Regions from separate parts of the Homo sapiens genome. Here all the other regions are linked to region 1. The links come from fine-mapping of genetic effects on gene expression. A gene starts in region 1. Each other region holds a variant in brackets. All regions are shown on one strand. Distances are between the middles of the regions. Region 1 holds the start of PRDX6 (peroxiredoxin 6). Region 2 overlaps SLC9C2 (solute carrier family 9 member C2 (putative)). Region 3 overlaps SLC9C2 (solute carrier family 9 member C2 (putative)).

Region 1 (2,762 bases):
CTGCACAGCCCTGTCCAATCACTGATTAATTTCATAAGCCTGTCTCCCTGGATACTGTATATAAAAAGGATATAATCTGGGGAAGAACTGTTGTCAAGCCTTGGAGCCCCACAGTGTAGTGGGACCACTAGTACTCCAGAACCATAATATAACTAGACATGCCTGGAATGCTTCTGATGAAAACTAAGCAACTTCCAGTTTGCTGATTCAGGAGCTGTTAAAAAAAAAAAAGGGCAACACCGATTTACTACTCCTATCCATAATGGTAAAACTGCCAAGTCAGATCACAGGTCATCAATTTGGCTATCATCAGCAAGCTCATGTGCTAGAAGCAAGGTAGAAAGCGGAGGGGACAGTGAGGGGCAAGCCACTGGAAAACAAGAGAGTCTCAAAGTTGGGGAGTACACGTGTCCTGGAGCCTGGAACGGCCATCACTAGCAAGAATAGGCCACTCCAGCGGAACAGCGTCAGAAAGTCCTTCCCTCCAAGTGTTGCAAGTTCTGGAATCTCTGAAGGCACACCTACGCAGAGTGTTCTTGGCTCTTCCTAAAGCTGTTATCAAATCATATCTTGGCCATTGGAGGCGGCTCTGGACAAAAAGTCTTTCGGCCACCTACTTGGCAGCTAGTGGTTTTAAATTTCACATTTTGTGCCCAGAAGCCTGCAAATACCACTGCACCCTCAGATGATACGTTGGCCTTCCTGTAACCTATAGCCAGCAGCTGTGTCCTCCGACTTTGGCTTTAGACACCCATCCTCCCCAGGGAGCAAATTCCAGAACGGAGGGTGGGAGGGCGGTGCGACCCTGGGCACTAGTCCGGGGAAGTGATCGTCAATGCCGCCCCGCCCCTGCGCCCTCGGCCTGACCACGCTACCTGCACAGTTTACTAAGACGAGTTAAATGGACAACAAACCCTCCCGCGGGCGGTGAGTTTCCAGAACCCGCAGAACACAATTTTATCCTCCCCACCCCCCACCTTGGCGTGGCCTTGCCCAGCCACGCCGGAGGCGGGGAGGCCAGGAGGGATCGAGTGGCCCGCGCAGGGCAGGCCGAACGGGTGCCAGCTCCCAGCAGCGCAGCCGACGCTGAGCAGAGGCCACACGGCCTGGCGCGCGCCGGAACCAGTGCGGGGGAAGGCGAGGGCGGCGCAGGGGGCTGAGCGGCCGGGAGGACGGCAGGGAGAAGAAACAGGGAAGGCACCTCCGAGTCCGGCGCAACCGAGGCCAGGACAGGGCTACGCGGTGGCCACTTACGAGTCTCCCAGAAAGTCGTGGAAACGGATGCGGCCGACGGTGGTATTGGCCTCAAAGTTGGGAGCCACGTCCCCGAGAAGCAGACCTCCGGGCATGGCGACGGTGATGAGGGGGCGCCGCTGGGACAGCAAGCAACCGGTTGGTTCTGGCGAAGAAGCAGCCTGTCCCAGCGCGCGGAGGAATAAACGAAGGCGCGAGGGGCGGGGACTGGGGCGGCGGGGGCGGGGCCGCGGGAGGCCGGCCGCTGGGGGCCGGGCCGCGGGGGCTGGGCTGGGCGCGGGGCGGGGCGGGGCTGGGCGCGGGGCGGGGCTGGGCCGGGCCGGGCTGGGGCCGGGACGCGGCGCGAGCTGGACTACCGCGGTCGCTGTTGGTGGCGCCGCCGGGCCTGCGACTAGGTGGCATCCTTCAGACACTATAGGCCGTCTCTGCACACGTGATGCGGGGCTCGGTCACGTTGCCCCCTGGAAGCTTGAGGATGCGCCAGGTTTGACTCTGCAGGGCGTACGCGCTTTAGGGATGGAAGGAAGAGGAACGCGGCAGGAAGGCGAGCCCCAAGGTGGAGAATCGCCTGGGCGCGCAGGCTGCGGCGGCTTCGCACAGCCGCCCTGGGCGCTGCACGGGTCCGCGCGCACCCTGCTGCGCACCCACTCGCGGCCAGCTCCCTACAGAGGAGTGGAGTGACTGCTCGACTACCACCCCTCTTTTAGTGTGAGCGTCTGGAGTCCTGACCGCCCCAGCCAGCCCAGCTACGATGAACTGTCTAAGAGGATGTGGCAAGACCCAGAAGTATGGGTGACCTTATGTCAGAGGAAGTGGCTTTCTTATTGCAGCAAAAATTCCCGTACCAATGTCAGTGCTAGGGTAATGTAACTAAACTTTTATTTATTTTTATTCTGCCCTCCCCTTTCTGTTTGTTATGAACCATAAAATATTCAACACAATTATCTTGAAATCTAAATATAAAATTTAAAACATACTCTTTGAGACCTACTGTGTGCAGGTCAACTCTGTCACCCAGGGAGGTGGGCGGCTTAGATTCATTTATTTGCTATGAGCCAAGTACAAGGTAGATAAGATGCCTGTCCTCTTGGAGCTTTCCTTCTTGTGAAGGGAAACCGGTGACAGACAATAAGCACACAAACCAAAATATGTTAGACAGCAATCAGTCGTATTCAGAGAACTAAAATAGGGTTATGTGCCTAGAGGGTGACTGGGGGGCTGCTTTGGTTTGGGTGGTCTGGTCTGGGAAAGCCACCAGGATAATGTAGGTAAACTAGTCAGCTCACGGTAGGTGCTCTGGAAATGGTAGCTATCGTTTGGATGATGACACTGGCTCATGCAGTAACTCTTGCTTTGCCTGCTGTGTGCTGGACACTGTGCCAGGCCATACAGTGGAGAAACACAGTCCCTGCTGTTACAGGGAAGGCATATTTATATGCAATTATAATAAAATGTAGGGTAAATTCTGATGGGGGAAGGTGTAAATGATTGGAGTTCAGAGATGAGAA
Region 2 (2,762 bases), 28 kb before region 1:
AAAACTCAACTGATCACCTTAAAAAGAAATTTAACCTGGAATGACCCTGTAGTTCTTACTTGCCTTTTACAAACAGTAAAAATGTACCTAGGGCTTCTGTGTACTGTAATACAGGTGCCCTACACAAGGGTGTGCCCAAGGGACAGGGAGCTGAAATCTGCCTGCTGTTTGCTTGCCACGCCCTTTGCCCTGGCGTGGGGCTGTGCCAAAGGAAGGATGAGATGCTGTAAGTTTTCCCTAGTTTACGCCAAGGCAACGATGCCGTGTTCTAGCATAGCTCTGGAAGTATCTGCACTGGTTGACAAAAAAGGAGTAGAGTAGGGGCCACATCACTTTGTTGACACATTAGGGGCTATGGGCACTTGATAGTAGATCCTGGGCCCTGGGCCTCAGCATTCCATACCTCTGTAAAGACAAAGGAAGTGTGACCACCTAGGACATAAGAGGGCATGGGAAGGATAGAAGCAAAGTCCCTAATGGCCCAAGCTGCCTGCCACTGGGCAAAGGAATGGGGAGGACCCAGAGGCCATGGGAAGAGCTGACTGACATCTCTTTAAATCTGGCAGTAAGTTTCTACCTTATGGGAGAGACCTTTTCTCCCAGTTCAGGCTGTGAAAAGTCATTATGAAAATTTGTCCTGGAAAAGTTGGTAAACCTAAAAAATGAATTTTCTTCTTTCAAAACATTCTTATTTTGTACCTTTCATCAATTCAGATGATGAAGGTAATTTACATGTTTTTAATAGAAAATTAAAATCTTGTTTAGCTTTGAAACAAAGGATGGAGGCAAGAAGCAAGGAAGCAACAGGAGTAATACTGCAGCTTAGTTTCTTAAGAGACCAGGGTTTGGAGTCAGGCACACTTAGGCTTAAAACTTGATCCCTGTGCCTACTTGTACTTGAGCTTAGGTAAGTTGCTTAACCTTTCTGACCCTCAATTTCCTTCATGGTAAGATAGGGATAAGGTCAGCAGCCATCTTATCGGGTTATTGGGAGGATTAAATGAGATAATATGTGGTAATCTAAAAATGATAGTTATAATGATTACTTGTTTGATGCTGGCATTCTGGGAGGCAGATTTTATGGCACATGGGACAAATGGTCTAAGAAAGGAAGACAGTCTTGCCATCCTGGGAATGCTGAGCCTTGAGCCCTTGAGCATCAGTGTAGGAGTAAAAGTAGCTTACTGGATGCTGGGGATTCCCTGCTTTCCAAACTGGGAATTTCCAGCCTAGTTATGAGTAAGGTGTAGAAATTTCCTCTCTGGTGTCTAAATATGCAAGGACAATTTGTTGGTCTAAGACTTCTCAACATCAAAGAGGATTTGAAATTTAGAATATAGAGCCAAGATTGAAGACCCAGCTTTAGGCTTTGGCTTATTTTTTATACTCTTTGGAAAGATTAGGAAGCAGCCAGGTTAGAGATCAAAGAATGCTCTTTTGACTAATTTTGACTTTTCTCCTCTAGGTTCAGGGAACTTCTGATTTAAGCAAGCTGCTGATAATCCA[A/G]GCATCTGAGCTTACCCAAAGAAATAGTAACACCAATGTCATGGGTAAGGGGTAGACCTTTAGTGGTAGGAAAACTATTGAGAAGGAACTTCAATACATGTAAAATTCCTTTAACTCTAAGAAAGTGATTTGAGAGGGCACTATGTGGGTTTATCATTAGTCCCCATCCTTGGGCCCACCCTGGCTGCCACATTGCCCTGGGAGGTCACATATGAGAGACTTCCAGACCCTAAAATCCAGGTGGCTCCTTCCTCTGCCATGTCCCTCCCTCCATACACTAGTCAGGGGAGAGCAGCTTCTGCAATGCACTCTGTTGCTGCCCTGGTAGGCTGCAGCCACATGGTGCTGGCAGTGCAAGAATGGGGAGGGAACAGACTCTTTCACAGGAGCCCAGGTATGGGGAACTGGTTTGCTCCCAGCAACTGAAGGGAATAGGAAACCTTACCCATAGTCAGTGAGTATTCCATGGTCACAGCTACAAGTCAAATGACTTGCCTTGAGTATGCCTTGATAGTCACTGAGTAGCTATAGTTACATTTATTAGCATCCAACTGCATGCATCATGGTGCTAAGCATTATACAGAGAAGACTTGATAGGAAGAGCTTGCTCTAGAAAAAACACACACAAGATCTTCCATCTTGTGCTCAGCATCCCTGCCCTCCCAAGCCCAATGACAAAATTCTCCCAGCTGCCCCAGCTTGAGGACACACTCTAGCTTTGTAACTCTAACTTGCACCATCCCAGTGTTTACAATTCATGTGATCCATCAGTTTAGCTATTATGCAATTCTTAATGGATTGTTGCTTTGGGGGGAGGATTTGCACGATTTCAAATTGTGTGCGAAGAGTGACGTTTTCTCAGTCTTATATCTCACTGTTTCTCAATTGCTTGCTTTTTATAAAATGCAGCCCCGCTGTGTGCTGGGTACTGTGCCAAGTGCCAATTGGTGAGTGAGCCAGATAAGGTGTTTGCCTTCATAGGGAGGAGAGACAGATATTCAATAAGTAATTAAGCTTTTCCCTTGGCAGCAATTTGAACCTCAGAGGTTCCTGTGGCTCACCCTCTTCTAGGGTCATATGCAGCACTGTGATTTAGGGAGCCCCCTCTGCTCCTGGGTCACCTTTCCAAGTTGGCTAGCACTGAGATGACCATTTCCCCAGCTCACAGTCTCTGAAGGTCTGCCGCTCTGCTGCTTTCAAATCACTCTTGGGGCACAGGAGTCTATGGCAAGGCTGGGAACTCAGGGTCTAGCGTC
Region 3 (2,762 bases), 32 kb before region 1:
ATATAAATCATTCTACTATAAAGACACATGCACATGTATGTTTATTGCCACACTATTCACAAGAGCAAAGACATGGAACCAACTTAAATGCCCATCAATGATAGACTGGATAAAGAAAATGTGGTACATACACACCATGGAATACTGTGCAGCCATAAAAAGGAATGAGAACATGTCCTTTGCAGGGACATAGATGAAATTGGAAGCCGCCATCCTCAGCAAACTTACACAGGAACAGAAAACCAAACACTGCATGTTCTCACTCATAAGTGGGAGTTGAACAATGAGAACACATGGACACAGGGAGGGGAACATCACACACCAGGGCCGTTTGGGGATTGAGGGGGTGAGAGGAATGAGAGCATTAGAATAAATAGCTAATGCATGGGGGGCTTAAAACTTAGATGACATGTTGATAGGTACAGCAAACCACCATGGCACACGTAGACCTAAGTAACAAACCTACGCATTCTGTACTTGTATCCTGGAACTTAAAGTACAATGAAATAATTAAACAAAAAAAGAAATGAGCCAAAGAATTCTCAATCTTTGGAGACTATATGATGCAAAAGAGCAGGATCCAGAGTCTTAGGGGTGTGTGGAGTGGAAGGAAATGTTGTTTTAGCTATTTCATGTCATTTCATTTTTGGAAGAGGAGAGAAGGCATGAGTTTAGTCATAAGGCTGAATTGAATTCACTGAAGTTCGTGTAACTTGAATCTGAAAGTGTATCTTTTTTATTCAGCTAAACTATTTGCCTCTGGAAACAAATACTGTGAATGAGCTCATGTTATCTACCATGACAATAAAAATAGATAAGTTCATATGGCTTAGTTCCTGAATCCTGGACTTTGGGCTCATGAGCCATATCCTTCATTATATCTATTGACTGATATACATTTTTCTGGTCTCTTATTAAAGTCTATAGCTTTAATCACACCATACATTTTATCATCTTATACTTAGCAAACAACCATTTTCACAATACAAATGCTTCTAAATGACAAGAGTATCATAATTATGCTAGAATTGATAGTTTTTCTGAAGGTTAAATCTGCAGGCATCTTGTTTTTTGATGGTCTTGTAATTTAGTTCCACATCAAGCTGCTATGGCCTGGTTCCTTTTTGTTTCAGGCCTGCTTTATCTCCCTGGAGGATTTATATGAAGGCTTTGATGCCTTCTGGCCATCTCTGGAATATAAAATATGGCTAAAGCTTGCTCTCAGTACTGCCTATCAGTATTTTGAATCAAGTCTTATTGATGAGGTAAGTTATGTGATTAAAATATTAATAAATTGAATTTTTATGCATTGTATTTTTTACA[A/G]AATGCATTTCATATTTTTGAGACAAAAATAGAAAGGAAATTTGTGTTTGATTTTTTTTTTTTTTGAGACAGAGGCTCACTCTGTTGCCCAGGCTGGAGTGCAATGGTGCAGTCTCAGCTCACTACAACCTCTGTCTCCCAGGTTGAAGCAATTCTCCTGCCTCAGCCTCCCAAGTAACTGGGATTATAGGCGCCTGCCCCCACCTCTGGCTAATTTTTTTTATTATTAGTAGAGACAGGATTTCACCATGTTGGCCAGGCTGGTGTTGAACTCCTGACCTCAAGTGATCTACTCACCTCGGCCTCCCAAAGTGCTGGGATTATAGGCGTGAGCCACTGTGCCTGGCCCTGTGTCTGCTTTTCTAAAATGAGATTGCTAGAATTTTAACTGCTCTCTTATCCTGAGTTCCTACAGGTTGTCAATCCTTTTGTCACAGCTAATTTTCCCAAGCTACTTGCAATCATTTCTAAAAAAAAAAAGAAGGTAGATTTAGCAAATTCAAAATAGGTAGATCCCCCCCTGAACCAAGCATAGTGTTAATCAGAATGTGTTAACAAACGCTCTGTCTGTATTTATTATTGCCTACTCTGCCGATGTTAATATAAGTCTGTAAATCTCCTGCCTTTTCAAAATCTTTGTGGAGGTGACTGAGCCTCTCTCATGGACTTCCCCTCCAAAGAGTAGTGGTTCAAGTTTTCTCTGGACAAGCACAATTTACAATCTCACATTTGTATCCTATTTAGTAACTATTGGAACCCTTACTAGCTAGTGAGTCAGGAACTGGGGAAGTGAACTGGGAAAGATTGGAAGTTCAGTAATATTCACTGAACTGAGCGACTGGGTATAAATAAATATTGGGTTAAAAAATGAGTGTGTCATACAAGCCAGTCAGGTTTCTTTTACTTTATTGCAATAATAACTTTCAGAAAAATTTTAGCAGAGGGATAAGGGGATTGGAATTCTTCTCTTTTCCTTTTACCTTGCATCTTCATGAGAAGTGGGACAAATTTAGAGTCTAGTATGAAACTTCAGGGGTGAGAATTAGGACCAATGGGTAGAAACTGTATGGACTCAGACTTGACTCAATAATAAGATGAATGTCCTTTAAATTTTTTTAAATTCACAAGCAACACATATTCATTATATAAATGAGAAAGTACAGATATAAAACATTAAAAAAATTGTATTTATTATTAAATAGAGAATCTCTATTTAATACTTAGTTTCTTTCTTTTTTTTTCCATTAAAGAACTAGCCAATTAAGATTTTTTTCCCTCTAAATCACAGAACTCAAAATGTATATGCATTTTAAAATCAAACCAAAACAGCTGATTTTTTTTTAGATTTTCTGGTTGTGAAATACTAGATACATTTGCTAATTTTTAAATGTTTTTGGTTCCCAGTTGTGCTGGTGCCCTCAGCAAATAAATGTATGATT

The links.
Region 2: its variant is fine-mapped to the expression of PRDX6 in whole blood (INTERVAL, PIP above 0.99).
Region 3: its variant is fine-mapped to the expression of PRDX6 in whole blood (TOPMed, PIP above 0.99).

Annotation. Positions count from the first base shown.
Region 1 is chr1:173,475,985-173,478,746 of GRCh38, reverse strand. It overlaps PRDX6 (peroxiredoxin 6), which reads right to left and starts at 1,412. Exons shown (of 5, transcript NM_004905.3): 1 at 1,255-1,412. The coding sequence starts at 1,349. It overlaps LOC100506023 (a long non-coding RNA gene), which reads left to right and starts at 1,592. Exons shown (of 3, transcript NR_037845.1): 1 at 1,592-2,115. RefSeq lists enhancers at 1,214-1,373, 1,871-2,407 and a silencer at 1,444-1,613.
Region 2 is chr1:173,504,035-173,506,796 of GRCh38, reverse strand. It overlaps SLC9C2 (solute carrier family 9 member C2 (putative)), which reads left to right. Exons shown (of 28, transcript NM_178527.4): 26 at 1,466-1,550. Among named protein-coding and RNA genes, the nearest start is that of PRDX6, 28 kb to the right of the region's middle. RefSeq lists an enhancer at 788-1,987. The variant A/G (reference allele first, on the strand shown) is at 1,507.
Region 3 is chr1:173,508,071-173,510,832 of GRCh38, reverse strand. SLC9C2 (solute carrier family 9 member C2 (putative)) reads left to right here. Exons shown (of 28, transcript NM_178527.4): 24 at 1,134-1,265. Among named protein-coding and RNA genes, the nearest start is that of PRDX6, 32 kb to the right of the region's middle. The variant A/G (reference allele first, on the strand shown) is at 1,324.